Linked DNA regions of Homo sapiens. The protein of the gene in region 5 purifies or fractionates together with the protein of the main gene of each other region. This does not show direct contact. Each region holds a gene or a part of one and is shown on either strand. Other genes may lie near its edges.

Region 1 (4,471 bases), on a different chromosome or scaffold from region 5:
AATGGAAATGGCATCTCATGCAGTGCAAATGCACAGAACACCTCCTGAGTGTCAGTTACTGTGGTGTGAGCCGAGGATTCTTAAGAAGTCTCTCAACAACTATCGCAGATAGGTACATTCCCATTTTAATGAGGCTCAGATAAGTTAGCACTACCAAGCCTGCGTGATTCCGAACTGGGCACTCAAACATCATGCTGGTGGGATACTGGGATATTTGTAAGATGCATGAGAAGCCTTAGGTGCACTCATATCTTGCTAGGTCTTCTGTTCTTCCTCTTTTCCCTTCATTATAGTTGCTTTATCTCCCCAGAATCTTGTTTCTTCGGCCATCTTAGCACATCCTTCACCCTTACCATATAGTGTTGGCAGCAGAAGGATGACCCACAGAGTAAGAGCCGTGAGAGCAGAGACTGTGTCTGGCTTGATCCTGGGAGGTCACCGTATTGATGCTGAACTTAGTGAGGGGTACCACTGGGTTGCCTAAGGAGGGGTGAACCGGCTCAGGTCAGAAACAGAGCAGGTCAGAACTCCCCTGCTGATCAGTAGTGGGGTCACGCCTGTGAACATAGGCAACTTAGTGCAGCCCTGTCTCTGATTTAATTTAAAAAAAAATTGTTTTGGCCAGATGTGGTGGCTCACACTTGTAATTCCAACACTTTGGGAAGCCAAGGTGGGCCGATTACTGGAGCTCAAGAGTTCGAGGCCAGCCTGGACAACATGGTGAGCACATTTAAAATAGGATTTTGTGCAGAAAGAGATCATTAGAAATTCATATACTGTGCAACAAGAGTACATGTTCTAGAGGGAGACCTGCCCTAATTAATACCCAGGATAGAAAAATAAGTACAGGGTCTCTACTAAAAATACAAAAAAAATTAGCTGACCATGGTGGTGTGTGCCTGTGGTCCCAACTACTTGGGAGGCTGTGGTGGGAGGATAACTTGAGCCTGGGGAGGGTGGGGAGTGATGGCGAAGGTTGCAGTGAGCCAAGATCACATCACTGCACTCCAGCCTGGGCAACAGAGTGAGATCCTGTCTCAAAAAAAAATTTGATGATGATGATGAAAATAATAATGTTGAAAATGAAAGTGGTATAAGCATCATTCATGCGACTGTGATTCCAGGAGGGAGATGCCAGCCCAACTGACCACTGTTTCACATGGCCTCTCTGCTTCCCCAAGCCATGCTGCTTTCTGAGTGTTCCAGCGTGCTGACTCTCAGGGCACTTTTGAGCCACTCATTCATTGAACTAAATTCAGTGACCACTCTTGGATTTGGGGTTGCGATGAAGACGTCTAGCACTTGGAGCATCTCCAGGGTGTCCCACTCCCTGGGATGTCACTGGGCATGGACACCTGGAGTCTCCCTAAATAGTCTATTTACCCCTCACTTGTAACCCAACATCAGCTTCTTTTTGTTCAGTCAGATTCTCCAGCTGAGAGATTTGGGCATTCTCTCTGGGTTCTACGGGTGCTGGTGGCTGAATGAAACGCCCTGATCAAGATCCGGGCTAGACGCTGGCATTGCAGAGCCTGAGCTGTACAGCAGAGTTCCCATATGGTTGGAAGACGAGCCTCAGAGAATTGGGAATGTGTCAGCCAGTCCTACCCAGTGCCAAGTAGCACAGATTTAAAGATTTCTTGATACTCCTAGACAGCTGAGCCGAGATTTTATCATCAGCCACAAACGCAGCCAGCCCATTGCCGCCTTGGCAGCATTTGTGGAATTAATTGGAGCACTGAGCTGACAGGACACCAGTGTGGGAGTATCTAAGAAGTTTCTCTTCAGTGCTTGTGTTGTGTTCTGTGTTGAATTGTGTACCCAAGGTTTCTGGGAGTGAATATTGCCCTCTACTGGGACACTAACATTTTTAATTCAAGCAATCTAGCCAAAAATGTTTCTGTTGACGGCAGTGTTTCTAACATGCTTGGTGGAAATGGAAATATTTGTATTAATGAGGCTGAATATTGAGAGTTATGGGGGGTTTCCCAGTTTCAATGTACTCTTGCCTCCCACCTGCTGTAGGAATGTGAGGGAGTCAAACCTTGTGTGTGTTGTTGGTATTCAAATAATTCACCAGAAACTTTTCCCTGTACTCATTTCTCCCCTGGGCAAGTCTCCCTCTAGAACATGTACTCTTGTTGCATGCTATATACGTTTCTGATGATCTCTTTCTTAGGAAATTCTATTTTAAATGTGCTAATGGAACCTTATTTTAAAGCAAAGTCTCCTTTTCTAAAATCACTCCTAATATAGTTATGATTTGTAATTGTTAGTACTCCAAACCCAAATTTCTCTCTATTGGTAAACCTTATAGTAATCTTATAGTCCATGGGACCTCTAAAATTATTTTAGTGTAATAGAACTAAATGGTGAATAAATTGCCAAAAATTTTACTTTACATTCTACAGGAATTAGCAAGTAAGGCACTTTGTATTTGTTAGGGCAATGGTTTTCCACAGTGACCCACAGTTATAAATCACCTTATAGAGCAATACAACTTACCTGTATGAATTTGTAAATAAGTATTTAGACATACACATAGTAATGAAACAAAACTCTTAACTTGATTTACTTTGTGCAGTACACTTTGATATTTTCTATTCTTTTTGCTTTCTTATTTCCTCCTTCCCTCCCTCTTTATTTATTTATTTATTTATTTTTGAGACACAGTCTCACTCTGTCGCCTAAGCTATGGTACAGTGGTGCAGTCACAGCTCACTGCAACCTCCACCTCCAAGACTCAAGTGATCCTCCCACCTAAGCCTCCCTAGTGGCTAATCCTTCCCTCTTCTTTTTTTTTTTTGAGACGCTCTGTTGCCCAGGCTGGAGTGCAGTGGCACTCACTGCCACCTCCGCCTCCCGGGTTCAAGTGATTCTCCTGCCTTAGCCTCCTGAGTAGCTGGGACTACAGGCGTGTGCTACCACTCCCAGCTAATTTTTTGTATTTTTAGTAGAGATGGAGTTTCACTGCGTTAGCCAGGATGGTCTCAATCTCCTGACCTCGTGATCCACTCACCTCAGCCTCCCAAAGTGCTGGGATTATAGGCATGAGCCACCGTGCCCGGCTCCTCCCTCTTCACGATCCACCAAAATCAGTTATCATCTACTATCCCACAATTTGAAACACTGCATTAGGGGTAAAGGTTTTCAGCTATCTCCACCCCTTCCTTTCTGGTGTGTGTATATGTTTTCTTTTCTTTCTTTTTTAAAGAAATAATGCCAGATAACAGAACAGAAGAAACATAAAGGGCTTAAATTCCCAGCCTTTAGGACAAACAGACCTCTAAGAAGTGCCTTCCATGAGTGACTTACCCTGAGGCACTGTGGGAAAGTCCTTCTCAGTGTACTTGAGAGTGTCATTACAACTCCCCTAATAAAAGTCCCCTACAGAACTACCTCTGCCATGGCTTGGGAATAGCATTACGTAATAATAAATCATATTGTAATAATAAATTTTTATGTATTTATTTTTGAGACAGAGTCTCACTCTGTTGCCCAGGCCAGAGTGCAGTGGCACGATCTTGGCTCACTGCAACCTCCGCCTCCCAGGTTCAAGCAGTTCTCCTGCCTCAGCCTCCCGAGTAGCTGGGATTACAAGCACGCGCCACCACACCCAACTAATTTTGTATTTTTAGTAGAGATGGGGTTTCACCGTGTTGGCCAGGCTAGTTTCGAACTCCTGACCTCAAGTGATCCACCCGCCTCGGCCTCCCAAAGTGCTGGGATTACAGGCATGAGCCACCGCACCCGGCCATAAATATTTATTAAGCACTTAGTGTGATTCAGATAGACTCAGTGCTGTGTGTGCACTGTCTCCTTAAATCCTCACAACCACCCTGTGGGACAGGTAGCATGATTTACCCTGAGTAAAGGAAGGTGAGGCTTACAAGGTCACAAACAGAATGCTTGCTGATTGAGCTGAGTTCTTAGCCACACCTTCATGCCAGTGCTCTTATCAGAACAGCTCCTTTTCTTTTTTTTCTCCTTTTCTTTTTCTTTCTGAGACAGGGTCTTGCTCTGTTGCCCAGGCTGGAGTGCAGTGGTGTGATCTCAGCTTACGAAGCCTCAATCTCCCAGGCTGAAGCAATCCTCCTACCTCAGCCTCCCGAGTAGCTGAGACTACAGGCACACACCACCACTCCCAGCTTATTTTTGTAGAGGTGGGGTTTCACCATGTTGCCCAGGCTGGTCTTGAACTCCTGGGCTTGAGATCCCCTGCCTCAGCCTCCCAAAATACTGGGATTACAGGTGTGAGCCACTGCACCTGGCCTCACTTTTCTTAAGCATGTATTTGAGAATGGTGGAACACTTTGCCCTGCTTTATTCACGTGTGGTTGACAGAAATTCATTGACCTCTTCTGTACCCTGGGCACTTTGCTAGGCACTGGGGATAGACTCAGGAACAACGTGGTCCCATCGCACAACCATCATGCAGTTTGACAGGATGGGGACAGCTTGGCAAGGAGAC
Region 2 (3,500 bases), on a different chromosome or scaffold from region 5:
CCCAGAACTTCTGGCCTCTTGGTTCTTGTCTAATCACATTTTATATCACCCAGTGGTCAGGGAGGTAGGTGGCCTGTCTCTTCCAGTAGACCCCAAGCCGGGGTTGGGCCCTGCAGGCAGGACCTGGAGCTGAGTCATCTCACTGCAAGGGCCTGCACAGTGCCCAGCCCACAGCGGATCCCTAACAGGAGAGGCATGGAAGGGGTTGAGGACTACTAGGGAGCCTCTGTGAGGCACACTCCTGTCTCAATGAGATATGTACCTTCAAGGCGGCCCCCCAGGCTTGTCGGAGGGCAACAGGTGCCAGGGCCCTTGAGGGCATAAGGCAAGACCACATATGGAGGGTAGGATGGAGGAGAAATATCTACTAGGACCCAATTTCGAGCAGTGCTTCTCAACTTTAGGGTGCACTCAAATCCCCTGGGGATCTTAAGATACAGACTCTGATTCACTGGGTTTGGCATGAGACCTGAGATTCTGAATTTCTAGTGAGCTCCCACGTGATGCAGATGCTATGGGTCCTTGGACCACATTTGAGACACAAAGGTTTGGAACACTCTCTTAGGTCAGAATTGACATCCCAAGCACCTGGGCCGTACAGAGGAATTCCTATGATGCTGTGAGCAGGAGCCCCAGTACCTGTTTCTCCTCCAAGTGCTCATGGATGCCTCCCCTACCATCTCATCTCTCACTTTCAAGAGGGAGGAGGCAGAAGAGCTGATGCTCATGAGATTGACCCTGAGGACTGAGGGCCCAGGAGAAGTCCACCCGACCCTAATTTCCCAGTGAAACCTTAGACAAGGGTTGACCTCACAATCCTAAGACCTGTCCTCTGACCCCACAGGTAAGAGGCGCCTCTTGAATATCCCTTAAGATAGAACTGCTCTGTCTGGTTCTTGTGTCCAGCGCATTTAACACAAGGCGCACATGCTGATATTCACCTATGTCAACTGCAAGTGATTTTGAGAGCCTCCTGGATGCCAGGCGTCGGGCAGGACATAATAATGCAGGTGGTATCTCTGGCCTCAAGGAATAACTTCACCAAATAAAACAGTAGGGGATGCATCTTCTGGATGCATTTTCAGGGGCATTTCACAGAGGTGCTGAGAATGCCCTCCTTTAGAGGACAGCACTTGACTCTCATTTGTAGAGAACAGACAGACCCAAGAGCCCTTGGTCAGACAGGGAGATGAAGACCCTGAGAGGATCAGGGACTTTGTCCGAGGTCCCACAGCCACATGGTGATCAGGACCAGATGTGACACCAGGGCCCACTACACAGACTATCTGCTACTTGCACAGGCAAGAGGCCTCTCCCGGGCCCAGCCAACCACCTGGTTCAGAGGGTCCCTCTAGGGTGAAGGACACAGATCCTGACAACACCTGGGGCTTGGCCCCTTCCCATGCCAACAGAGACCCCCAAAGCATTAGGTAGTGGGCATCCCCAAGAAGGAAGAACAGCTGCAGGAAGGCCTGTTCACATGCCAGGACCTCCCTTAAAGAGGAGCAAGAATCAAATATGTTTTGTTCAAACACAAGGCTTATAAAAGATGTGCCTGAGTGAGGAGGCGAGAAGGTGAGACTCGGCTTCTGAATATGCCTTCTGAGAGACAACCAGGGAGTGTCTCGCTGGCCAGCAGCAGTGTAACTAAGCCTGATGAACCGGGTCAGCCGCCCATAGCTCTCACAAGAGGAATCTCAGGACTTACGTGACTTACTCACCAGCTTGGATGGCCAGGAAATTGTAGAGTTCATGCAGCAGCTCCAGCAAGGCTGCCTTCTGCTTGGCCTGACAGAACTGGAAAGGCACGGGACAAGTGGTCAGCAAGGAGGGGTGGGTGGGAGGGGTCCGTCTGTCCATCTTTACTTCTCCAGCCACACTGTCAAATACTAAACAGCAAGGAATATCTCATACTTTTACAAAATAGAAAAAAATTCTGCCAAGTGCTGGGCCTAGGGAGAGAGTTGATAAATATTGGGTTAACTGCCTGAGAAAGACCCTGGAGAAGCAGAGGCAAAGCTGAAAGCAGACACTGTAACCAAGGGGCTGCATCCCAGAGGCTCCTGGCTCCTGCCTTTCCCTTGGAATGACGGCCATTAAGAGGGCTGAGCAGAGGCGACGTGGTCGGGGGATGATGCAGTCGCTCAGCTTCCTCAGAGGAAGAGCAACTGCTGTCGGAGTTTGCAGAGATGGGAGAGCTGGAAGAGCTAGGAGAGCTTGCAGACAGGGCAGAATGTCAGCAGCTGCCATCTCGTCTCCCGTTAGGTGGAATCTCAGAGCCCTCATCTGAGTAAGGATTGTGGTAGGATTCAGTGCGAACTCACACAAACCACTCAGCAGAGGCTGCTACCACCTAAAGGAAACAGGAGGACAGACGGTACCAGACAACGAGACGGCCTGATTAAGACAACACACCCACTCCCAGCCTGTCCCCACGTTTTCAGCAGCACAAAGGCAGAAAGAAAAACACAAAGTGTCACCGTCTTCAACGACCGAAAAGGGAAAGAACATGAATCTGAAATTCAAATGCCCGTCTGTGATCTCGGTAAGCCTGGAGCCATGCAAAGAATAAGACTTTCAGCAAGAGCCTCACCAAAGCCAAGAAACACGTCCCCACCTGCTTGTTCCTGTGTCCACCCTCCAGAAAGGCCAAGGGTGCCCCATGAAATCTTAGCTCCACAAAGCCTGCATTGAGATGGCCCAGCCCCTGCTTTCTGATGCTCTGATGAAGGTCTGAATGGTTACAAATAGGGATATCTGCGTCTGAAGCCCTCGCTGGCAGGTGCTGAATGCCGTCTGCCCACGGAGCGCATCTGTAGCTAGGACCTGGAGGGTACCTGTCTGGGCTCACTCAAGTGGAGCCTGAGTGTGTCCAGATCAGAGAAGGCCAGGGAACAAATGTGCCATTCACTTGTGGGTCTGATTCATTTAGAGATGTGAAGGACCAAGAAATAGAAACCATGGAACTTTTTTCTAATTAAAAGACAAAACTAACAGCACTGAGAAGTCTTACAGAAAGTTATTTTTTCCTGTTTTTGTTTTAAGTCTTCAAATTCCAGTTTCCCCTCTGGCTGCCTGTGTTTCTGGGCCACTTCCTCTCATCATCAACTACAGTTTTTATGATAGAAGGCAGATTAAACTTACTATGAATCTGTTTTTACAAAACAATTGGGAAGCAAAGATATTTGGTGGATGAATCCAATAAATGGATGTAATAAAACACCCCCAACTATGACACACCCGAAGCCAAAGAGAAATAAAAGCCGTTATCTGCACCAGGATGCCCCCTCATTTACATGAGTAAGACAGTCAATGCAGGGCTGGCCAGAGGACCATGCGTCATTTTCTTTCCCAGCCCCTGGGCTACTAGAGATGTTAACTAAGGACTTGGGAGGCCAGGCATTGCACACTTAATTAGACTACTAAGTCATGCCCTCTGGCAGCACAAGACTCCTCCTGGTACAATTTAAGACCTGAAAATTTACTGCCCCATATCTTCT
Region 3 (4,471 bases), on a different chromosome or scaffold from region 5:
TTGAGACCAGCCTGGCCAACATAGTGAAACTCTGTTTCTACTAAAAATACAAAAATTAGCCAGGTGTGGTGGCATGCGCCTGTAATCCCAGCTACTCAGGAGGCTGAGGTGGGAGAATCGCTTGAATCCAAGATGTGGAGGTTGCAGTGAGCTGAGATTCCACCCCTGCACTCCAGCCTGGGAGATAGTGCAAGACTCTGTCTCAAAAAGAAAACAAAAAACTATTTTCTGTATTGAAGAGGAAAATATATGAGCCTCCTGATAAATAAAACTACGTTAGAATATTATATCTGAATGTATCTGCCAAATCTGAGCCTAAACTCTAGTTAGCAGATAAGCACTTGTTAAAAAATATTTATAGTAATATATTTTTAATCAACCAGGATTTCATCTTGTATAAAAAATACCAAGAACTTCCACACACTATGTCATTTTCTTCTTTTTGCTTTTTTAAATTCATGTCAGGCTCAGTGGCTCATACCTCATACCTGTAATCTCAACACTTTGGGAGGCTGAGGTAGGAGGACTGCTCCATCCCAGGAGTTTAGGAATTTGAGACCAGCATGAGCAACATAGAGAGACCCTGTCTCCAAAAAAATAAAAAATAAAAATTCATTGTTTAAAAAGGAAATCTGGTGGGGCGCGGTGGCTCATGCCTGTAATCCCAGCACTCTGGGAGTCCAAGGTGGGCAGATCACCTGAGGTCAGGAGTTCAAGACCAGCCTGGCCAACATGGTGAAACCCCATCTCTACTAAAAAAAATACAAAAATTAGCTGGGTGTGGTGGTAGGCGCCTGTAATCCCAGCTACTCGGGAGGCTAAGAGAATCGCTTGAACCTGGGAGGCGGAGGTTGCAGTGAGCCAAGACTGCGCCATTGCACTCCAGCCTCGGTGACAAGAGTAAAACACTTCGTCTCAAAAAAAAAAAAAAAAAAAAAAAAAAAAAAAAAAAAACAGGAAACCTATTCACATGGTTCACCTTTGTGTTTCAGAACACCCACCCCATCTTCCTGGTTATCTCCCCTATTTCTGAAGACATATCTACCTCTTTTATGAGAAAATTAAGATTTTGATTTTGTATATTCAGAGAAATGTTTTGTTTTTTACACTGAAGTGTCAGAATAAAGGGAGCTCCCTTAAAACAGTGAAAATGATTATTTTTATAAATATGATCTAAAATCAACTATTACCACGTGTATACTGCACATACACAGACACATACAAACACATAAAGCAAGATTTATACCCTGTAGATTTCTGGCTTGGTATTCTGTTTTGAATCCTACGAGTAATGGAAAAAAGAGAAGCTAAATTATACACAGACCAACACTCCTATTAACTCATACCACTAATGAAACAAAACTCTAACTAAGCAGAGAAAATGGGCCCACACATTGGAGCTCTGAAATGATTTTGGTCTTTGATCTGTGTGCCCATCTCTCCTATTTAATGTAAACTTCAAATCAAGAGCCATGAAAAATGGTTATAATTAGTAAAGGCCCCAGTGTGACAGCTTTTAGTGCAACCAGGCATTAACAAGGAGTTTTTTTCACTTTTACATTAAGCTGAGCCAACTTTTATTTTAGAATTTCTGTAATTCAAAATTCTTTCCCACCAAAGAACTTAATTCTTTCCCACCTAGCACCACCTTCTGCATGATGGGTATGCTGAAATCGTTAGTTCATGTCTATTTCCTTCATTGAATTTGTAGCACTATTTAGGCCTTAGCTTCCAAATTACATGTGGCTATTCTCCAAAATCTTCAGAAACTCTCATTTTTGTATCAGAAATCAACACACAGTGGTGAGTGAGCACCAACTATGCAATCGTTCTAGGTGCAGGAGATGGGAAAATATTCTTGAAGTGAGAGAAACATGTTAAGAGATAAATTACAACAGACAAGACTTGACAGATGGGGGTAAAAGTTACTCACAACAGAAGAGCTAATTCTCCATAGAAGAGGTAGTATTTAAGCTGGGTCTTGAAAAAAAGAGTACAAAATTTTTATTGCTGAAGGAAGGGGATGGGGATGCAACAGAATGAACAATCCAGGCAACAGGAGGCAGTAAGAATCAATTCAGTGTGGCAGTGGGGTAGAAGAGAGTGACAAGAGCTGAGACTAGAAATTCAGCTTGGAAGCAGACGAAGTTCCTTGTATGCCAAGTTAAGGAGTTTGGATTTCTTCCTGTAGACAACAGAGAGCCAAGAGATGTTTTTAAGCAGGCAAACACCACGCACGGCTTTAGTTCTGATGATTCTGGCAGCAGAGTGGAGGATGAACTGCAGTAAGGAGAAACTGGTGGCAGGAAATTAACTTGGGAGGCGTTTGTGACTTGATGAGGGCCTTAGGTCAGAAACGATAGAACAGCCAATGCCAGGGCCAGACTGGAGTGTGGTTTTGCAGAGGGCCTGGTGACTGATCGAACATTGGGGCAGGACAGACATACGTCAGGACGGCAGTAAGACTCCTGGCCTAGAAGGCTGGGTGGATGGTGATCACCTTCCAGAAGGAAGGGAGAGGACTTTCATTTTTACAAGTACCTGCAGGGTAAGGTACTTGCAGGGTGATCAGGGTGACAAAAGGTTCAAGCTTGGGAGAAGTTGTAAATGGAGATATAGAGTTGGGAGTTGGCAGTTTATAGGTTAGACGAGAAGACAGAAAAGCACCAGAACGCAGAGTGCGTTCTGCAGGAACAGGACTCGTTACCACGTATGGGACTGCAAAGGTGGCTGCAGAGCAATGGCCCTGAGCACCATCAGTGCGACTGACACCAATGGGACACTGACTAACCGCTGGTTTAGATGTAAAAAGAGCTATCTTCAAGTATTGCACATGTCTATAAAGTGGGAGCCCAGGCCACTCTAGGGGTGACTCTGCCTACCACTGGCAGCCCTTCCTTTTCTGGAATTCGATCTCTGTCTCCCTGTTTTCTTCTCCCCTCTATGGTTTCCTTACCTCCTGTCTGTGTGATAGGCTGGGGGGTGGGGGGGAAGGCCAAGGGTCAGATCAGTTAACACTTGCTGGCTAAAAGATCACTCCTGACACTATATTAGACATTTCTGGTCTGAGGCCTGGGGTCCCTTAACATAAAAATAATCACCGCCTCCTACCCTGCATCCCCTTACTCCCTCCCTATCCCTCCCAACCACAGCAGCTGGCAGCCATCCACCCTCTCAAGAGGAGATGTATGGACAGAGCACCCGGCTCAGAAACACTGCCCTATAAAAACGGCAGACGGTTATGTAAGAATTTTGCAAAAACTTGAGAAAATAAAACAAGGGAGACTACGAATGCAAAAACATTAACTGTTAAGCAAGTAAGGGCTAGTTCAAACACTTAAAAAAAAAAAAAGGTATACTCCACATAACTTAGAACATGAAGGAGGCTGCAGATGACAGCACCAGAGCAAGTTTCCCAAATAACTGAAGAGGTGACTGGGAAAGCTGAGCCATCGACCACAACAGCTTCACAAAGCCAATGAATCTAGTTTGTTTTAGAAGTAGATGACTTCTAGAATTTTCATTTACTACGGGGTTTTCAAATATATTTAATGCCACTTAACATTTTCCTCAACCCCAAATTTTCTGTGAAACTTCGAACTTGCCAACCATGGTACCTCAGAGGCAAATAAGAGCTTACTTGCTTTATGGAATTTCAGATTTCTAAATATATCGCATGCAATACAGGCAGCGCACCCAGTGGACTTGTAGATGAGACCCAGGCCACGACTACTGTACCTTTCAAGCAGGCTTTCTCAACCTCAGCTCTGCTGACGTATGGGGGTCGTTCTGTGCACTCCAAGATGTGGAACAGCATCTTTGGGGTCTATGCACTAAAGGCCAGTAGCAGCTCCCCGCTGCCGCCCCCCCCCCCACCAGAAACACTTAAAAATGTCTCCAGACAGTGCCAAAAGTCCCCTGGGGGCAAACCCACCAGGTTGAGAACCACTTCTTCAAAGAGTAAGCCCCAAGCTTGTCATCAGCTTTTTCCTTAAAACTCATCCCTCACCCTGATCAACATGGTGAAACCCTGTTACTACTAAAAATACAAAAATTAGCTGGGCGTGGTGGTGTGTGCCTGTAGTCCCACCTGCTCAGGAGACTGAGGCAGGAGAATCGCTTGAACCCTGGAGGTGGAGGTTGCAGACAGGCAAGATTGTGCCACTGCACTCCATCCTGGGCGACAGCAAGACTCTGCCTCACCTAAGTGAACCACATTAAGAAGAATTTGCTAGTCCTGTTAGTCTCCCAGCACTAAAAACAAAAACAAAGTGCTGCATTTCCCCAATCTGAACATAAACTCCTAGGCAAAATTTGACTAAGGTAATGGAGGTGTGCAAAATTCTGGAAAGGAAATCCAGAATGGATACCCACAAAGCTTCCTGAGCTCAAAATATACCACTTTCTTCCGTTTATAGATTTTGACTTTCTGGAACATCTACTTTATCCTTACAACAATCTCATGAGGTAG
Region 4 (4,471 bases), on a different chromosome or scaffold from region 5:
GTATTTGACCTCAAGAAGCCAGAATGGCTCTTCCACAGATCTGGTGATACGAATGGGTTTCCAATCTCTGATCCTTGTATGATCTGGATTGTCCACCATTAGAGCAATTTACAAGATCATAACACAGCTTAAAATATAGACAGCTTTAAAATAATAGTGTGAAAACTTTCAAACCATAACTGTCGTGTTTCTCTTATCAGTACCTGGCTCCAAAAGGGATTCTTCAATGTCCTATTTAAAAAAGAAAAAGCAAATCCACAAGTCACTTTAAACACGGGGCACATACATTTCACCAGTAAATATGGCTTTCAATCATCTGTGAATAAATGCCTGTTTCCACAAAACTTTCTTGTCTCCAAAAAATGTATTCCATCCTACAATAACCTGATGAAAACCAGCTCATTTTAACAGTTTCCCTGGTAACAGCAGGTCCCTAGTGATAACAGTCTGTCCCATTCTCCCGAGTTTGGGCCCTGCCCTGCCATGCCACCCACCCCATGACCAAGCTGACCTAGTGGCTGCTGCAGCTGGCAAACACCCCCTTTGTCAGAGAAGAGGTCACAGTGGATTTAAGAAAAAAATACTTCTCCCAACATAAACTGATTTGTAACTGAAACCTGTCATAACAAAATGATCTCTCTACTCTGCTGAAAACCTTTTCCGACATCTGTCTCACTTAGGACAATAGGTCCAATCCTTCTGGTGGCCCAGACTCAGCGAGGCGGGCCCAGCTGCTCTGCAACACCTCTGGCTTCTATCCAACCCTGTGTGCTCCCCTCTCTCTTTTGCATCAGAGACACCACCCAAACTTTCTGCTCCAAATTCTTCTTTCCCTCTTCAACCTATCCGTCAGACCTCTGGGAAGAGTTCCAGGCACTTATGAAGTCCAACCACCAGAACTGCTCCCTCATCACACTTCTTTCTCCCTTCTGGTTACATATTTGGTTTGATCCCACTGCCCCTGCTAGATGGCCAGCCCTGAGACTGTTTCTCTTCTGCTAACCTCTTAACCCCAGCATCCAGCACAGTATCCAGTCATTTCCATACACATACACACTGCTCTTTCATTATGGAAAATCAACCACTCGATTAACATTTCCAGCGATGCAGAACCAGATGGTAACTTACCGGAGTTACTTTGAAGTTCAACGATGAAGTTTCCAAAGTGTTCTTAAATCCTTCCCCATCCACCTGAAAAACAAAATGGAAGATGACTTCGTGGAGGCTGGAGCTATGAAAACCAAGGCTGACACCTCGCTTAGGCAACTTGTGTGTCTATTTCCCTCACGGCACCTTTTGCCATCTGCAAGTCTACTGTTGGGTCATTCAGTTCAGCACCTGCCTCTCCGCCAGAACACACACTCCACGACTCTGCTCCACCAGCGTCTCTGGCAGTGGCCTGCAGGTGGGTATGCCCTGTCTGTACTGGGTGAATGAACGAATGAATTTCCCAGGCAGTTTCTAAGTACTGGTGATTACCACATACCCCTCCAATCACAGGATTTCCAAAGCAGAACTCAAAATGATAAAATGCACCCCTCCAATTTCACCTGGTAGCAATACTCTTAAGGTAACACTAACCGGGCACTTTCTCCTAGCCTACTTTATTCATTCATTCATTCACTCATTCATTTGAGACGGAGTGTCACTCCTTTTGCCCAGGCTGGAGTGCAATGGCGCCATCTCGGCTCATTGCAACCTCCACCTCCTGGGTTCAAGCAATTCTCCTGCCTCAGCCTCCCGAGGAGCTAGGATTACAGGCATGCACCACCACGCCCGGCTAATTTTTTGTATGTTTTAGTAGAGACGGGGTTTCACCATGTCCAGGCTGGTCTTGAACTCCTGACCTCAGGTGATCCGCCCACCTCAGCCTCCCGGAGTGTTGGGATTACAGGTGTGAGCCACCGCGCCTGGCCCGCCTAGCCTACTTTATTAAAAACAAACATCTAACTTGGTCAATTTCTCTCTTTACTACATGCCAAACAAAAGAAAAACTGTTAACACCAAGTTTTACTAAATCTGAAGCTCTTTTTAAGTGAACTACAAAAACAGCACTCCCAAATATTTTCTTTTTTCCTTTTCTCGATTTGAACTCATGACCTGGGATGCCTCCATTAACTGAGAAGTACACACTCTGAAAACAATAAGCACACAGCAGTACCAGACTGAGAAAGGCGGCTAACCAGTTGCTCAGTGCTGCCCTAGGTCAAAGGATGGTAAATTTGGAGGCAATGACTTTTGACCGTAAGGTTTAAGGTTCAGTCCTATGGAGGCATTTCCACCCCCAAGCTGAAAGCTGCAATGCCTTAAGGAAACAAAACAACCTACTGGGCACGTGACATCAGTCAGAGTACAATGAAGATCAGCTCGAAGACACTGACAGCTTGTGATATTTGAACAGCCTCACCAGAGAGCTCTACGCCAAAACACTAGAAGTGAAAAGCTGGGAAAGCCCTAACAGAGCAAAGTTCCTCCTTTACATACAAGGATGCTCACAGTCAGTCCTTTTGGGGAGCAGGGTTGATACTTGTCTTCACTGTACTTTACATCTTTTAATGTAACTGCTTAACCTTGCTTAAAACAACATTAACAGGCTAGGCGTGGTGACTCACCACTATAATCCCAGCACTTTGGGAGGCCGAGGCAGGCAGATCACTTGAGGTCAGGAGTTCGAGACCAGCTCAGCCAACATGATGAAACCCTATCTCTACCAAAAATATAAAAAATTAGTCAAGTGGCTGGGCGCAGTGGCTCAAGCCTGTAATCCCAGCACTTTGGGAGGCCAAGGCGGGCAGATCACGACGTCAGGAGATGGAGACCATCATGGCCAACATGGTGAAACCCCATCTCTACTAAAAATATAAAAAAATCAGCTGGGCGTGGTGGCGCATGCCTCTGGTCCCAGCTCCTCAGGAGGCTGAGGCAGGAGAATTGCTTGAATCAGGGAGGCGGAGGTTGCAGTGAGCCATAATCTTGCCACTGCACTCCAGCCTGGGTGACTGAGAGAGACTCTGTCTCAAAAACAAACAAACAAACAAAACACAACATTAGGAGGAATATCTACATGATGAGATTAGAAACCATTTTTGAGCTGGGCACGGTGGACCACACCTATAATCCCAGCACTCTGGGAGGCTGAGGCGGGAGGATTGCTTGAGCTCAGGGGTTCAAGATCAACCTGGGTAACCTAGTGAGATCCCGCCTCTAAAAAAAAAAAAATTTTTTTTTAATTAGCTGGGCGTGGTGGTTCACTGTGTAGTCTCAGTTATGCAGGGGGATTGCTTGAACCTGGGAGGCTGAGGCTGCAGTGAATTATGATGACCCCACTGCACTCCAGCCTGCACAACAGAGCAAGACCCTGTCTCTAAATAAATAAACCATCTTTGCTTCTTAAAACTGTATTTTAAAAGGAAAAAACTAAATGGGCACTGTGGCCTGTGCCAATAAGCCCAGGTAGTCAGGAGGATCGCTGGAGCCCAAGAGTTCAAGACCGGCCTGGGTAACAGTTGAGACCTCATCTCAGAAAAGAAAAATCTTTTATGTCAGAGCTTTCTATTTTATGACTCACCACATGCTTCGAATTATAAAAACACTCCCCAGTGCTACAGAAAAGCTATCTATGAGTAAATCCCTGAGCTACACAGCGTTTAAATGGACATGGTTTAACACCAGGGTGTAGAAGCAGAACTGTGTGTTCATGGCGGTTTAGCTGTGTTCTCCCTCACACGAGCAGCACGCGAGCACCAGGTGCCTCGGGGCTATGGGCACATCCTGCCGTGTCTCCAAGTTACCTACAGCATGCTCTGGGGGCTGAGCCGGGAGCTGTCTCAGCTGTGCAGCCACGTATTCTTTACTATCACAAAAGGAATCGAGAAGGCCGTCCGTGCCATCCTCCCCAAAATCTGGAGCACTGCTATTCGCCACTTCAGTTTCGTCTAGCACACTCATGTCCATCATGCCCATATTCTGCAGGTTCTCCAGACTTGCTTCCATGTCCTCCTGTAAAGAGGAAGAAGAATCGTTAACGACCACCTGGACCAGGACAGGGAGCTGCTGCTTGTCATCTCTACCCTGACATCACTTACCTGCCCGTCTCTGGAATCGTCTTCCAGGCCATTATCTTCTGTGCCTTCCTCCTCCATCTTCAGTCCTAATTACAGAATAATTGTTCAATCAGATAACACTCAAGTTCTACCTCATAATTAGTTTATGCAGAATAGATTTCAATCTTAGAACAGAACACATTACAAGATAAACTATAAGTCTCCCCTCTCCTGTCACACGTAATTTTGTCTCAATTTGTTTTCTTTTTTTTTTTTTTTTTTTTTTTTTTGAGATGGAGTCTCCCTGTGTCACCCAGGCTGGAGTGCAGCGGCACAATCTCGGCTCACTGCAATCTCCACCTCCTGGGTTCAAGCGATTCTCCTGCCTCAGCCTCCTCAGCAGCTGGGACTACAGGCGTGCATCACCA
Region 5 (5,145 bases):
AGATACATTAGCTGGGCGCGGTAGCTCACGCCTGTAATAATCCCAGCACTTTGGAAGGCCAAGGTGGGCGGATCACCTGCGGTCAGGAGTTTGAGACCAGACTGGCCAATATGGCAAAACCCCATCTCTACTAAAAGTACAAAAATTAGCCGAGCATGGTGGTGGGCGCCTGTAATCCCAACTACTCAGGAGGCTGAGGCAGGAGAATTATTTGAACCTGGGAGGTGGAGGTTGCAGTGAGCCAAGATCGCGCCATTGCACTCCAGCCTGGGCAACAGGAGCGAAACTTCATCTCAAAACAACAACAACAACAACAACAAAAAGGAAACAGGATACATTTTCCTGTTATTTTTAAAATAGATTTATCGAGGCATAACTGGCATACAACACGGTGCATACACTGGAAGTATACAATCTGATAAATTTTGGCATATACATATACCTGATGAAGTGCAATTAATCAATCTGTTCTTTCATGGATCATGCTTTCAGTGTCTTATTTAAGAAATCTTTTCCAATCTCAAGATTAGAAGATTTTATGTCTTCCTGTAAGAATTTTACGGTTTGATCATTTCACATTTGGCTGTATGTACTGCTTTGAGTTAATTTGTATATGATATAAGTGATGATTCAAAGTTCATTTATTTTTCATATGAATATGAATTTTCCCAGAATCATATGTTAAAAAGACTGTCATTTTTAATGATTTTTTTTTTTACCTTTGCAAAAATCAGTTGTCCAAATATGAGTGAGTCTATTTCTGGATTCTTTATTCTGTCCATCAACCTATTTTTGTAACTTGTTGCCAAAATCACGTTGTAGTAATATAGTTGTTTATGTATAGTATCCAAAATAATACACAAAACATTATAAATAATAATTCAACAGTTTATAACTATAAGATTAATATACAGAAATGCATTCCTTTATTTTAGTACCACTCCAAGAGAGAAAAAAATTACATAAAAAAAGTAATTTCCAATAGCAACAAAACTACAAAGTACATAAGAACATCGAATACAATATATTTAAGAGTTTTAAAGGGAAACTTATAAAACTTTATTGGGAGATTTAAAGGACCTACTTAAGTGGGTGTATGTCTGATATTTTAAATGGGAAGATTTGATAAAATGAAGACAGCAGTGTTGTCAAATTAATCTATAAACTCCTATCCAAAATCTCAAAGGGTTTTTCATAGAATTTATCAGAATGATCCTAAAACCTAAATGAAAAAAATAAAGACAAAAACCTGCAAAACAAGTTGAATATGTTTATCAGGATGTACTATCCCTACTACTAGGTATCAATACTTACTACAAATGTATAATTATTAAATCAGTATGGCAGTGGCGTAGAAAAAAATGAACTAATAAATAGAGTGTGGAAACAGGACCACATGTAAATTAAAGCTTGGTATATAATCAAAGTGGCATTAAAAATCACAAGGAAAGAATGGCCAACTATAAAAAGTGTTCAGACAAATGACAATACACAGGGAATGATATATTCAGCCTTTCTCTTATATCATACACAAAATATATATCTGGTTGGATTAATTATCTAAATAGAATAGTAATGATGTTGAATAAAACACAGAATTTCTCAATACATTGAAGTAGAAGGAGGTTCCTTAAATAAGGCACAAAAAGGACAAGCCAGAAAAAAAAAATTTGTCAAATGTGATTGCATGCATATTCTCAATTTCTTTGTAGGAAACACACACATCCGTGCACACACACACACTAAACAAAGTGATTATACAAGGCAAAAACTGGGCAGATACCTGCAATACACACACACACACACACACACACACACACACACACACACATATATATATGGCTATACCTGCTATATATATATATATAGAGAGAGAGAGAGAGAGAGAGAGCTAATAGAGGTTTTGCTTTTGGAATACATGGAGAACCATGTATCAATAAGAAAACAACAGTCTATTTGAAAAGTGTGCAAAAGATGTGAATGAGCAATTTGCTCAAATATCCAATAAACATAAAAAAGATGTTTGACATTATTAGCAATTAATGACTTCCAGAGCAGCAACATATAAAGTGGAAGAAATAAGCCAAAGAACAGGAAAAGATGTTTATGAGCTGAAAATAACTGATTGTGAATTTTAGGGAAGCTTGAATACCCCCATCAGTAGAGTCAATGTTAATAAATTCTAAACTATCACTGTTAATGGCCTTATAATGTTTTTTCCTATATGTTGGTAAGCGCTGGAGAAACTCTACTTATACATGTAGAGTTCATGAGTGAAAATTAAAACTATTATCAGGACCATTTTCAAAATAAGGAATACATTAAAAATATTTGCAATGATAAAGCCATCCAAATGCCCCCATCCTACTGATGAAAGCAAGGAAGGACACTACCTTTGTTGAATATCTACTGTGACAATCAGCTTGGATGATTCCTACTTTTCTACTTGTCCATAAGAAGCTAATCTTCCTATAACCCTCTTATATAATAACAATCACATTTTAATCACATTTTATGTGATTGACTCAGTTTTTTCTCTGAAGTTATGTTGCCTTATAAATGAAAAACTTGCATTTTACTTCATAATATCTGTTAACTTAAAAAATGCTTGTATTTGCTATTGGCATAAAAGTCAGCCTTACAAATAGGCTGATAGACAAACCCCAAAGGAAGCCGAAGCTTAAGGAACACCAGCTCAGAGACACCAGAGGACATGGCTAAAGTGAATAAAAGAGAAATGAACCCATCCTTTCAGAGCTGATGTCCATGTTTGCAGGTTCAGGTTCTCAGAGGTGTGCACAGCATGGCTGGCCTTTCCTCAGTTGTCTTTTTCAGCAGAGAAACGGTTAAGTCTCTCGTCTCTAACCCAGCTCCTCTATGGTGCTTACCTCCTGATCCCTGGGGCGATCAGCAAACCGGGTCTGCCACCTTCTTTTCAGAGAGCTTAACTAGCAGAGGACTCAGGAGAGCATGCCCAAATAACCTAGGTGACTTTCAAAGCTACAAAGACTCTGACACTTCTGGACGGCTTCACATGTACCCCTAATAAACACTTCCCTTCACCCCCAGGCCCAGTGTGGGTAGGAGTGACAACTGGAGCTCTAATTGGCTGAGCTGGTTTGGGTTCTCACTAGCAGCCACAGAAGAAAATGTCTATAGAAACTTGTATCTGAGTCATGCCACATAGGAACTACACTGATTGGAAACAGAAAGTGGCCTAGAAACTGTAAAAAATGACCGCAGATGACTTCTTGATACACTTTGTGACTAAGGGGCCTGGTGATGACATTTTTCTGGTATAAACAAGCACACTGATCTCAGAGGGTATCTAAAAGTGTTGCCAGTAGGGCAGTGCAGGTTCTTGTCTTCAAAGCATAAGAGAATCTGAAAATGAGACCCAAGCGAAAGTATAGACATTTTATTGTGGAGCAAAACCAACGACACCCTCAAGGGAGGAGTGCAGGCACTCAAAGATTTGAGTCACAGGCAATGTGGTTCACGTACTATATGAATAAGCACAATGAAGGTATGGAGTACTCTGTAATCAAGGGGAGGGGTTTTCTGGGAAATGGGCGGGCAATTCCCGGAATCGGGGTGCCACCCTTTTCTTGACTAAAGATGGTTAATCCGGAACTGTCATGGCGTCAGGTGCATGATGGGAGTGGGAATTTCCCCATGGAAGTTTTATGATATTAAGGGCATAATGAAGCTAAGGGTCAGCAGTCAGCCAAGTTTTCGACCATCTTGGCTTTAACCAGTTGCGGCCAGTTTCTTCTGTGTTACATTCTCATCTGTGCCTAAGTAGGAAGTTTGCAATCTGTCTTCATTGTCACAGGCTGTTGTAACAGTTCCTATCTACTAGTGGGGCAATCCCTCTGCTAACCTTTTTGACCGCATTTTTATTGCTTGTAGCCACCTGCAAGTAATCATGCCTCATTCCCTCACTGACTGCTTGCCTCAAAAGCATATATACAGTCTTTCTTCCTAACCCAGGCTCCTAACCCTAAATTCAGAGCTTGAGGGCTTGATTCTAGTCAGCAATTTACTTGAGGTTTTCCTTTCTTATTCATTGAATTAACAATTATGCACTGAACATCTAATATGATGTATTAGATTCTGAGAATATAAAAGTTAGTAAGACAAAGTTCCAGATGTTGAGCGGCTCTGCCAAGTCATGAAAACAGACATGTGATTTAATAATCACAATAGGACATGATGATAAGTGTTATAATTAAAGCATGCTCAAGATGCTCAAGGAGCAGAGGAAGAGCACCTAACCATGCCCAGGTAATCAGCCCAGAGCTGCAGGACCTCCTTCACTTTCTACTGCAAGGCTTGTTTCTACACTTTTGCCAGCTTTCAGCTCAAATAGCACCTTATCTGTGGGGCTTCTCTGACCAGCATGTTCTCTACCTCTTCCCCACATTATCTTTTCCCACACGTGTTACTGACCATCATCTGACATACGGTATATGTCATTTGTTTGTTTATTCTCTGCCTCATGCTCCTAAAATGTAAGGCACATGAGGGAAGAGATTTCTGCCCACTGGCTCACTGCATCCACTTCACCTGACACAGTGCCAGGCACAGAGAAGGTGTTCAGAAAATATTCGTTGAATGAGTGAATGCATGAATGAGTGGATCACACAAGGCGAAAGAACACCAAAGAGAACAATATGTAAGAATTAAAAAGATGTGAAGTGTATGAATTTGGTAACCTACTGAGTAAACGAGAGAAAGCTCCCTGTTGAGGAAGAACCCAACAAGCACCAACCCCAGAGAGGCGTACTGATTTGAGGCTTCAGGTCCTGTAAAAGGTGAGTTAAGTGATTAAGCTGGGAAGTGGTCTCAATGAGGAGCAGGTACACTGCTGCACCTGGGGCAGAGAGACAAGTACTCATCGTCCAGCTTTGTTTTACCAAGAAATTTAATCAGAGAGATACCCAACTTGGTGACACAAGACACAGAAGGGAAAGGAGGCAACTGTGCTGAAAAAGGAGGTTTGTTAACAGTCTCACGGAGAAAAGTGGGATCCCCAAGCCCTTTCCTCCCTGACTTCTAGAGTACTGACAGCAAGGTTTATGCCATAAGCAGAAGACTGGAGGCTCCTACTGTAGCAACTGGCCCAAGAAGGGAAAAACTCTC
Region 6 (3,500 bases), about 46 Mb from region 5:
CGAGGAGCACACAGACTGAACATATACATTCCAGCGTGGTGCTTGGAGGGCAGCTCATCGGCCACAGAGGGGCTCAGTGCCACAGAGGGACACTGAGCCCAGTCTGGGGGCAGAGGAGGTGTCCATGAAGGCCTTCCCAGGAGGCAGCATAAGAACTGAGTCCTGAGGATGAGTGGGCATTACCTGGGCACAAGAGGGAGCGCGAAGTGTAAGCAGATGTGAGAGGTACGCAAGAACATGTGCAGGGAGGGGCAGAGGGGGGCGGCCCACTTGACAACTCTAGCCAGGTCAGCTCAGTTGACCTCACCTCTCAGAGCCTCGCTTTCCTCCTCTATAAAATTGGAGGAAAGCGAGACTTACCTCGTAGGGTTGCTGTGAGGTTTACATGAGATTTTGACACGGCAGAGAACCACTTAGCACAGTGCTTGGCACATAGGAGACCTCAGTAAGGGTGAGCCATGATTAGTATCACATACAGTTTCATTGTGCTAGAGTGAAATGCACAAGGAAGGGAGTGGCAGGAGGAGCAGAGGTGGGCAGGGACCAGATCATGGACAGTTTTGCACAACAGGCCAAGCCTGGACTTGACTCTGCATGTCTGCAGTCGTTTTCCCCGCTCTACTGATACCCAGGAGCCTGAGGACATTCCCACGTGCCACATACTTCAGGGACATATTCAAGATCTAGATGACTGACACCCTCCCTTAAAAGCAAATCTTTGTTTATGAGGACTATGGTAATTCCTATTTAACTCTTCAGGCTAAATCATCATGGTCACTCACTAGGGTATGTGATAAGATCATTTATGGTTATGAGTATTTTTCAGGTGCCTGCTGCCTGTAACTCTGCCCCTCTCCTTCACCCCAAGCAAATGAGACTGGTACAATTTGGAAAACATTGAATTGGCTATGATTTGTTTTAAAAAGGTAATAAATCATTCAAAAGCATAATAGAAAATGCTCAGTAAATGTTAGCTACTATTGTTAGTATTTATATTAGTAGAAATAGTAGTACTAATAGTAGCAGTAGTAGTAGGAGTAGTAACAACTTACTTTCAGCCCACGTCAGAGGCTACACTGTGGTTACAGAACCACTGCGGTTGGTGGGTTTTAAGCAGGGGAGTGGCAAGATCATATTTGCATTTCAGATCACTCTGGCATCAGGATTGGAGGATGGATTTGCTGGAGGCAAGACTGTAGGCAGGGAGACCAGTTAGAAGAAGGCCCTTGCAATTGTCCAGTTAAAAGATAACAAAGGCCTGAGCAAGGCAGTGGGTAGAGATACAGAAGAAGAGCGGCAAGATTCGCTAATACTTAGAATGTAAAATTAGCAGAAATTTGGTGACTGACAGAAGGGGGAATGAAGGCTGGGAAGAGGGATGAGTCTAGGATCCCCAAATCAATGGCCTGGCTTCTAGGACTATCTCTGAGATAGGATGTAAGACAAGAGGAGGAGGGGTTGGAGGGACTGACCATGACATTTGGATTTGGATATGATGCGTTTGAGATTCCTGTGGTCCAGAGGCAACCAGCTCCACGAGTCAGAAGCTGAGAACTCAGGCCAAAGTCAAGGTTACAGCCTAGTATTAGGGAGTCCCCAGGTAGTGGTTATAATCAAGGAAGTGTAGGAATCTCCCCAGGGAGTGTGAGTAGTTGAGAGCAGCTACTAGCACAACCCGGGGAGGAAGGGAAAACAAGAAACCCTCAAGAGAGAAAGGAGAATCAGCAAAGTCTCAAAATCAGGTATCAGGATCAAAAGCTGCTGAGGGGTCCAGTAATACAGGGACTGAAATCAGGAGATCATCAGTAACTTTCACAAGGGCTTCTTAGAGTCCATCAAAGTCCCATGGATCGAGGCACAAGCTAATGCCTACAGCAGCTATGCTTCACAGGTATCTTGATCCTTGCAGCCCTTTCAGACACCTGTTCAGTCCATTTTTGAGAGTCACTAGTGTAAGAATACTGCATGCATATCCCTCACAACGCTAAGAAAACAAAGTGCAACCTCCAAGAAAAGTGGCTCCAGGCTCCCAGATCAATGCTGGGCAGAAAGAGGGCTTTGTGGGGACTGAACAAACTGGGAAGTGCATGCCCTGTCTGAAGCAGGTAACTGCTTATCTTCGAACGGGGCCAGTAGGGAATGCAGGCCCCGGATGGCCAGATCTGACTTTCAAGAAAAGACAAAATCAAAATTTTAACATGAAACCTCCTATTTTTGAAAACCTGCATGGCACAAGGGCAGACAGAACTCATCTCTGTAAAATTTCCAAATTCTACTGCAGATGCTATCCCTAAATATTTCTCAAATTATTCTCTATGTCTCTCATCACTACCCAAATTCACCTAACATTGGTCTAGGTAACAGTCATACAAAAATTATTTTTAAAAAATCACAAACTTATTATATTCTTGTCGGAAAAAAGCCCCAATCCTTGTATTATACATGTAATCCTCTATATTTATTTTATTTTATATTTTATTTTATTTTATTTTATTTTATTTTATTGAGACGGAATCTTGCTCTATCACCAGGCTGGAGGGCAGTGGCACGATCTTGGCTCACTGCAACCTCTGCCTCCCGGGTTCAAGTGAGTCTCCTGCCTCAGCCTCCTAAGTAGCTGGGACTACAGGTGCACGCCACCACACCCAGCTAATTTTTCTATTTTTAGTAGAGACAGAATTTCACCATGTTAGCCAGGATGGTCTCAATCTCTTGACCTCCTGATCTGCCCGCCTCGGCCTCCCAAAGTGCTGGGATTACAGGTGTGAGCCACCGTGCCCGGCCGTAATCCCCTATATTTCTAAGAAAAACTTTCTAACCAAGACTGGAAACCAGCAGCTATAAAATAAAACTAGGTCAAGTGTGGTGGCTCATGCCTGTAATCCCAACACTTTGGGAAGCTGAGGTGGTAGGACTGCTTGAGCCCAGGAGTTTGAGACCAGCCTGGGCAATAGTGAAAAAAAAAAAAAAAAAAAGCCAGGCATGGTGGTGCACACCTGTAGTCCCAGCTACTCAGGAGGCTGAGGCAGAAGGATCACTTGAGCCCAGGAGGTCAAGGCTGCAGTGAGCTGTGATTACGCCACTGCACTCCAGCTTGGTTAACAGAGCTTGGGTAACCCTGTCTCTAAAAAAGAAAACAAACATTTCTGACTACTAAAAAATATTTTCTCTAGCAAAAGGTAATATAAACACATTCAACAGATAAATACCAGATAAATACTCATAATGCAGATGACAGGCAAAGGGCTAATTTTTATAATATATAAATTTTCTTACAAATTGACAAGATGAACAATTCAACAGAAAAATCGAATATTCAATTAAAAGAACAGATCCAGATGGCCAAAAGAGTATGAAAAACTGCTCCAAATGTAGAGAAATGCAAATTAAAGTATAAATGAGATATTATTTTATTCCCATTAGACTGACAAAAATGAACATAGTTCTAGCATATATTACTATAATGGGTATGTGGAAAAGTGAACTCATAAATTGCTGGT
Region 7 (5,222 bases), on a different chromosome or scaffold from region 5:
CCGTGCATCAAGGCCACTGTTGCATTTGTGCTGGCTGACGTGGTAGCGATAGGCAGCCTCTGACTTGAAGCTCTGGCTGCACAAGCGGCAGTGGAAGAGGGCGTCTTCCAGACTTTGGTGCACAGCCATGTGCTTCTCTAGAAGATGCCAGTCCACAAAGCTGTTCGCACAGACAGAACAGGAGAAGACTGAGATGCCGAGATGGGACAGCGTGTGCCACATGAGGCTGCAGAGGTTAAGGTGACGCTGGTCGCAGACACTGCAGGCCTGGCCCTTCAAGTTTAGATGGTCAAGGATGTGGCCCCGGACCACATGGAAATCTTTGGCCAATACTTTCCCACAGGCAGCGCATTTCAGCTCTGGGGAGGCTGCCCCTGAAAAGAGACCCAGCTTCCCTGGCAGGGGATCGTTGGGGTGGACAATGATGTTGTTCTCAAATATTCCATCCCGTCGGTGAAGGGTCAGCTGCCACTGGGTAAAGAACTTAGTTTCACACATGTCGCAGGAGAAAAGGAAAATACCAATGTGGGACAGGACATGAGTTACCCGGGAGTTTCGGTCCTGGAAGTGGGTCTCGCAGACCTTGCAGTTGCCCGTCAGCAGGTCCACATGGTCCCGAGCATGCTGCCGGATCAGTTGAATGTTGGGCTCTAGAACTTTCTTGCACACCTGGCAGGGCATGGCCTTATTCTCCCGATTGTCATTCTCTCCAAAAGCCAACTCATCCTCACTGTCATCACTCAGCTCAATCACCTCCTCAGTTGTGCCTATATCCTCAGCAGGGTCTTCAAACTGCAAGTCATCATCCCCCAGGTCCTCGAGCTGGAGCTCATCCATCTGCCCAAAGCCAGGATCTTTGGAGTGCTCACTATTGCTCAGACAGGAGTTGGTCCCAGTGGTAATGTCTACTGCATTGTCAGGGGTGAGGAAGCTGTTTTTACTGAAGTCTCCATTGCTTTGAACTTTGTATGGCTGGCAGGAGCTCGTGCTGGTCTGGATGCCCGTGCTGACAGTGCCTAGGAGTGGCTGGGTCATCATGCTAGGAATGGACGTGAAGGGAGCAGGGGTGTCATGGTCTTCTGTCTTTGGCGGTGGTGGGGGCGGTTGCGGCAGATGCAGGCTATGGTTAGCGTCACTGGCAACATTCTTCTCTTCCTCTTTATAGCTCCCTCCAGCATCACTGGGCAACACATAGTTTCTATCAGCACCAAGGTAGTCCCCACCACCTCGGAGTTCTCCAAGGGGATGGGCAGGTTCTGCCGAAGGACAACTCAGGGTACCAGAGTGGCTCTCACTGGTGCTGGTCAGGGGCTTGGCCCTGGCAGTGCTCTCCAGATCAGGAAAGGTAGAGTGACAGGCCTGGAGGAGGTCCTCCATACCCAGACGCTCAGCTACCTCGTAGATGACCCCAACATTGATCAGGTCTGTGAAGAGTTCTGAAGTGTAGACAAAGCTCAGAACCTTCTCAAAGTTGGCAGGGGTGATGAAGTCCACCACATAGGTCCTGGCAGCATCAAGCCCAGTATTCAGGAAGAGGTTCTGGAAGTAGCCAGCTGCACAGGCCAGCACAGCCTTGTGGGCCGGGAAGGAGCGGCTCCCCACCACAATGGTGACGTCGCACATGGTCTCTGAGAGCCGGCACTTGTTGAGTTCCTTCAGCAGGTTGTTGGGGTGGTTGGTGCTTTGCAGTTTGATCCTCATGCCCATCTTAGCAGCTCCTATGAAATTACCTCCTTATCAGCACAGTTAATCTGTGGATAGCAAGAGAAAAAGATGGATGGCCAAACACATCCGTGCAAAAGAGGGGCTATGCAGGAGAAAATACCATCACTCTGAATGCTTCCAAGCCCCAGGTAGGGATCAGGAGTAAACTGGCATGGAGAGTTCCTCCATTATGACAAGGCAATGACATCTCCCCCTGTATATACTCAAAGAGTTATGACAAAAACCAAAACGACTGATGACAATCTGATAGCTTGGTTTTAAGCTGGTGCCTAGAGACGAACCAGAGGCATTCCCTTGGACACAATCTTATACTTCATTACCAGAGCCACTGGATCAAATTTTTCTCCTATTAATTTCCTCCCAAATACAAGCTTTCCTAATTCATTGAGCATATTCTTTTCCCTCATGATGCCAAATACCATGCACATGCTTGAACACAACTATCAAAGCTCCACTAGCTACTGAGGAACATATAAGGTGGTTCCGTTTTTTAGCTTTGTCATTGCTGTGTCTTCAACCTCTCAATAATCTCCAAATAAATCTCACGTTCTTGAATCCCCATCTCTCTCTGCCTATACTACATACCCGCTCTCTGGCCTTTCGATAACCCAGAGCCCCTCCAGATATTGCTTTATCACAGTCCCTGTATTCTGTGAAGTTAAAACACTCAGAATGCACAGTAAGAAAAGTAGAACACAACTGTGGTAGTATTTAATATTACTTTAATATGTTGTATTCTTTTTCGCCACCCTTTTCGGGGTTTATATTTTGTTGTCCCTGCACTAACAGATTTACTTGATGCCGCAAGAAAGACTTCTAATTATACAGGTAAGACTCCTAGAGGCTTGTTCACTACCACTTTCTGCCCTTTCTGACTCCTGCACGACTAAGGAAGAAGAGCTACTTGCATCCCTGTTCAGTCTCACAACTCTGCCCAACACAGCCCCTTTCTCCATCTCTCCAGATTCTAACAACTCCCAACTTTTTCTGGGGCCCAGGAAGCGTCTAAGTATTGTGGGGTACCGGCCAAGCATCTCCCGGGCCCTGGTGGCCACCCCTGAACGATGGGCGGGTCGGAGCACTGGGCAGCCAGAGGAGAGGGTGGGAGAGGGGGAAGCTGGGAACTTCCAAGGACACCCCAACAATCCCCGGGCGCCGCGGTCTCCCCTCCGGAGTCGCATCTGGGAGGGAAGGGCGCTGCATCGGCTGGGGCGCTCCCTCTGGAGGCAACGAGCGCCTCAGTCCCTCCACAAACAGCGCGGGGCTCACCCGGGTGAGCCTGTTGGGGGCATGGGGCTGAATAAGGGGCCAAGCGAGGGGCGGCGGGGCCGGCCGGGGTCGGCGCGCGGGCGGGGAGGATGGGTCCGGCCGAAGGGAGCGGGCAAGAGGGACCCCAGCAAGAGCGAGATAAATGCCGGGCCGAAGGTCGGGCTTCGGCCAGGGGCAGCCCTCGGCCTGGCCGCGCTTACCCGGCTCTGCGGCGCCCCGAGCACCATCGCCGCCGCCGCTTCACACAAAGGCCCCGGCCCGCCGTGCCCGGCCCGACGAGGAGGCGGCGCCGCCGGCCGCGGCCAGACTCTCCATCCGCCGCGCGGCTCGCCGCGACGGCCCGGGCCGCCCCCGCCGCCCGGCCCGCAGCGCCCCCCGCCGTCCCGGAGGAGGCAGCGCCCCCCGCCGCCCGGCCGCAGCGCCCCCCGCCGCCCGGGAGGAGGCAGCGCCCCCCCACGGCGGGGCCGGGTCCAGGACCTGCGCGAGGGGTGCAGGGGCTTCCAAGTCCCCAGGCTGGCTTTTTCTAAGCGCCCATCCACTGTGCGCGGGACTTGGTGCCTGAAGAGTGAAAAACCCTATCCAAACTCTCTTCACCTCCCCTGTTCTACGCTCACAGTTCCAAAAGCTTCTCCTCAGAACATCTACTATGGGCATTTTACAAAATGTTGTAAGATTGTTTGATTACTATATATCTCCTCCACTAGGCTGTGGGCTTCCTGAAGGCAGGGATCTGTGGCTTTGCACACGGCCGCAGGTCCACACTGACCCTTACCACACTTCCTGGCACAATAAGTGCTTAATACATTAAGCCTGCTTGAATGAATGAAGGAGCACTTGAGGGCTAGACCGCTACTACTGGACCCTTCTGATAATCCACTGCTGTCCCTCCTTCCATCTAGGTGGCCAAATGAAGAAAGTCACCGGATCTCACTGTACTTTGGCACCCCAGGCCTGCTTCCTGAAGCCTGCCCTCCCCAACTCTGTGTAGAACTCGATCACTCTTCCTCCCCACCCTTCTCCCAAATCATCTTTTCAAATGCTTCTGCCCAAGAATTGTCATCAAACGAAAACCACCTACACTGCCTGCCCCACCCACCACCACCAAAGACATTAGAAGTCTTCGTCATGTCGCCCTCCCTCCCTCAGTACAGAGGAAGCTCTTAGGCTCCAAGACCCTTCAGTTTCATCCTCTCTCCCATCCCATCCCAGTCACTGCCTGAAAATAGCTTGCAGCCAAGGACAAACTCCCAGGACAGGCGCATGGTAGGATTCAGTAATTCCTTGATGGATAAGTGGAAAGGAAGGGACACACTGAATGTTGCCAACAGATCTAAGCCAGTTTGGCCATTCAGCAATTGTCCATTCTCTTGATGAATTTGGGAGATTGTGTGTCCTCCTTTCCACAACCTCATTAACTGGTGGCAGACTATACTGAAAGCAAGCACTATACCAAATGCTGCCAAACATGTAACATTTGTTAGCCAGGAGATACAAAAACAGCCATAGAACTGTTCTTATAGTTTGGGGATGAGGCATCTCACTTTACCATCTAGTGAAAGGGTCACTTAGAGGTTGACACAATGTTTCAGTGGCAGGCCCAGCTCTCACAGTTGTGCAAGGTGACTGAGTCTCCCTAAAGTGGAATATCACACAGCCAGCAGGTCCAGACCTCCAGCATGACTCTGGAGACAGAGGGCTGCTGGGCTTGCAAGGGCCTGGGCCTATACAGTCTTTCTAACCAACTGCCCCAGCCATCTCTGGAGGGTTGACCCCAATAAACTTCACATGAAAACAAATCATCCAAAAGACGCAGGTGAAAGTATATACCACTTATACTGAAGTCTTTTTAAAGTAAATCACCATATAGTCACAATAACAAACATATACAAAGTTAAATGGAGAAGAAAGGGCCAGGAATTTAGTCAAGGTCTTGTGGACCAGATCTCTTTAGGCATCAACTGTTTTACAACAGGAAAGGGAGGGTCAGGATCCCTTCACACATTCTTCAAGTACAAACACAGGAATCTAACTTAACATTTGTCTTCATTTTTTTCTGGAGTCCCCAGTACTGCAATTTTTGTCAGTCCCACTAGAGAGCAATCTTTCTGCACTTAATGTTCCTACTTGCAAAGCAATTGTCTCATCTCAGCCTATAAGCCTAACTCCCACCAAGTCTGAGCAGAACCAACTCTTGTAGCTTTCATGACCCAGAGAAAGCCCCTAGACTC

Evidence for each region.
Region 1: the proteins of AIM2 (region 5) and BEND3 purify together in Homo sapiens (affinity purification with mass spectrometry; one large-scale study listed by BioGRID and IntAct). This does not show direct contact.
Region 2: the proteins of AIM2 (region 5) and LEMD2 purify together in Homo sapiens (affinity purification with mass spectrometry; one large-scale study listed by BioGRID and IntAct). This does not show direct contact.
Region 3: the proteins of AIM2 (region 5) and RREB1 purify together in Homo sapiens (affinity purification with mass spectrometry; one large-scale study listed by BioGRID and IntAct). This does not show direct contact.
Region 4: the proteins of AIM2 (region 5) and SAFB2 purify together in Homo sapiens (affinity purification with mass spectrometry; one large-scale study listed by BioGRID and IntAct). This does not show direct contact.
Region 6: the proteins of AIM2 (region 5) and MOV10 purify together in Homo sapiens (affinity purification with mass spectrometry; one large-scale study listed by BioGRID and IntAct). This does not show direct contact.
Region 7: the proteins of AIM2 (region 5) and ZBTB39 purify together in Homo sapiens (affinity purification with mass spectrometry; one large-scale study listed by BioGRID and IntAct). This does not show direct contact.

Annotation. Positions count from the first base shown.
Region 1 is NC_000006.12:107,073,419-107,077,889, reverse strand, and holds part of BEND3 (BEN domain-containing protein 3), read left to right. Parts: intron 1-4,471. UniProt on the Homo sapiens protein: Transcriptional repressor which associates with the NoRC (nucleolar remodeling complex) complex and plays a key role in repressing rDNA transcription.
Region 2 is NC_000006.12:33,782,631-33,786,130, forward strand, and holds part of LEMD2 (LEM domain-containing protein 2), read right to left. Parts: intron 1,890-3,500; coding exon of another isoform or gene 1,863-1,889; exon of another isoform or gene 1,831-1,862; intron 1,798-1,830; coding exon 1,722-1,797; intron 1-1,721. UniProt on the Homo sapiens protein: Nuclear lamina-associated inner nuclear membrane protein that is involved in nuclear structure organization, maintenance of nuclear envelope (NE) integrity and NE reformation after mitosis.
Region 3 is NC_000006.12:7,113,872-7,118,342, reverse strand, and holds part of RREB1 (ras-responsive element-binding protein 1), read right to left. Parts: intron 1-4,471.
Region 4 is NC_000019.10:5,612,337-5,616,807, forward strand, and holds part of SAFB2 (scaffold attachment factor B2), read right to left. Parts: intron 4,151-4,471; coding exon 4,086-4,150; intron 4,000-4,085; coding exon 3,796-3,999; intron 1,192-3,795; coding exon 1,129-1,191; intron 232-1,128; coding exon 204-231; intron 1-203. UniProt on the Homo sapiens protein: Binds to scaffold/matrix attachment region (S/MAR) DNA. Can function as an estrogen receptor corepressor and can also inhibit cell proliferation.
Region 5 is NC_000001.11:159,073,745-159,078,889, forward strand, and holds the start of AIM2 (interferon-inducible protein AIM2), read right to left. Parts: upstream 3,023-5,145; 5' UTR 2,889-3,022; intron 2,883-2,888; exon of another isoform or gene 443-2,882; intron 1-442. UniProt on the Homo sapiens protein: Sensor component of the AIM2 inflammasome, which mediates inflammasome activation in response to the presence of double-stranded DNA (dsDNA) in the cytosol, leading to subsequent pyroptosis.
Region 6 is NC_000001.11:112,684,659-112,688,158, reverse strand, and holds part of MOV10 (helicase MOV-10), read right to left. Parts: intron 1,194-3,500; exon of another isoform or gene 1,053-1,193; intron 1-1,052.
Region 7 is NC_000012.12:57,003,211-57,008,432, forward strand, and holds the start of ZBTB39 (zinc finger and BTB domain-containing protein 39), read right to left. Parts: upstream 3,337-5,222; 5' UTR 3,195-3,336; intron 1,752-3,194; 5' UTR 1,708-1,751; coding exon 1-1,707. UniProt on the Homo sapiens protein: May be involved in transcriptional regulation.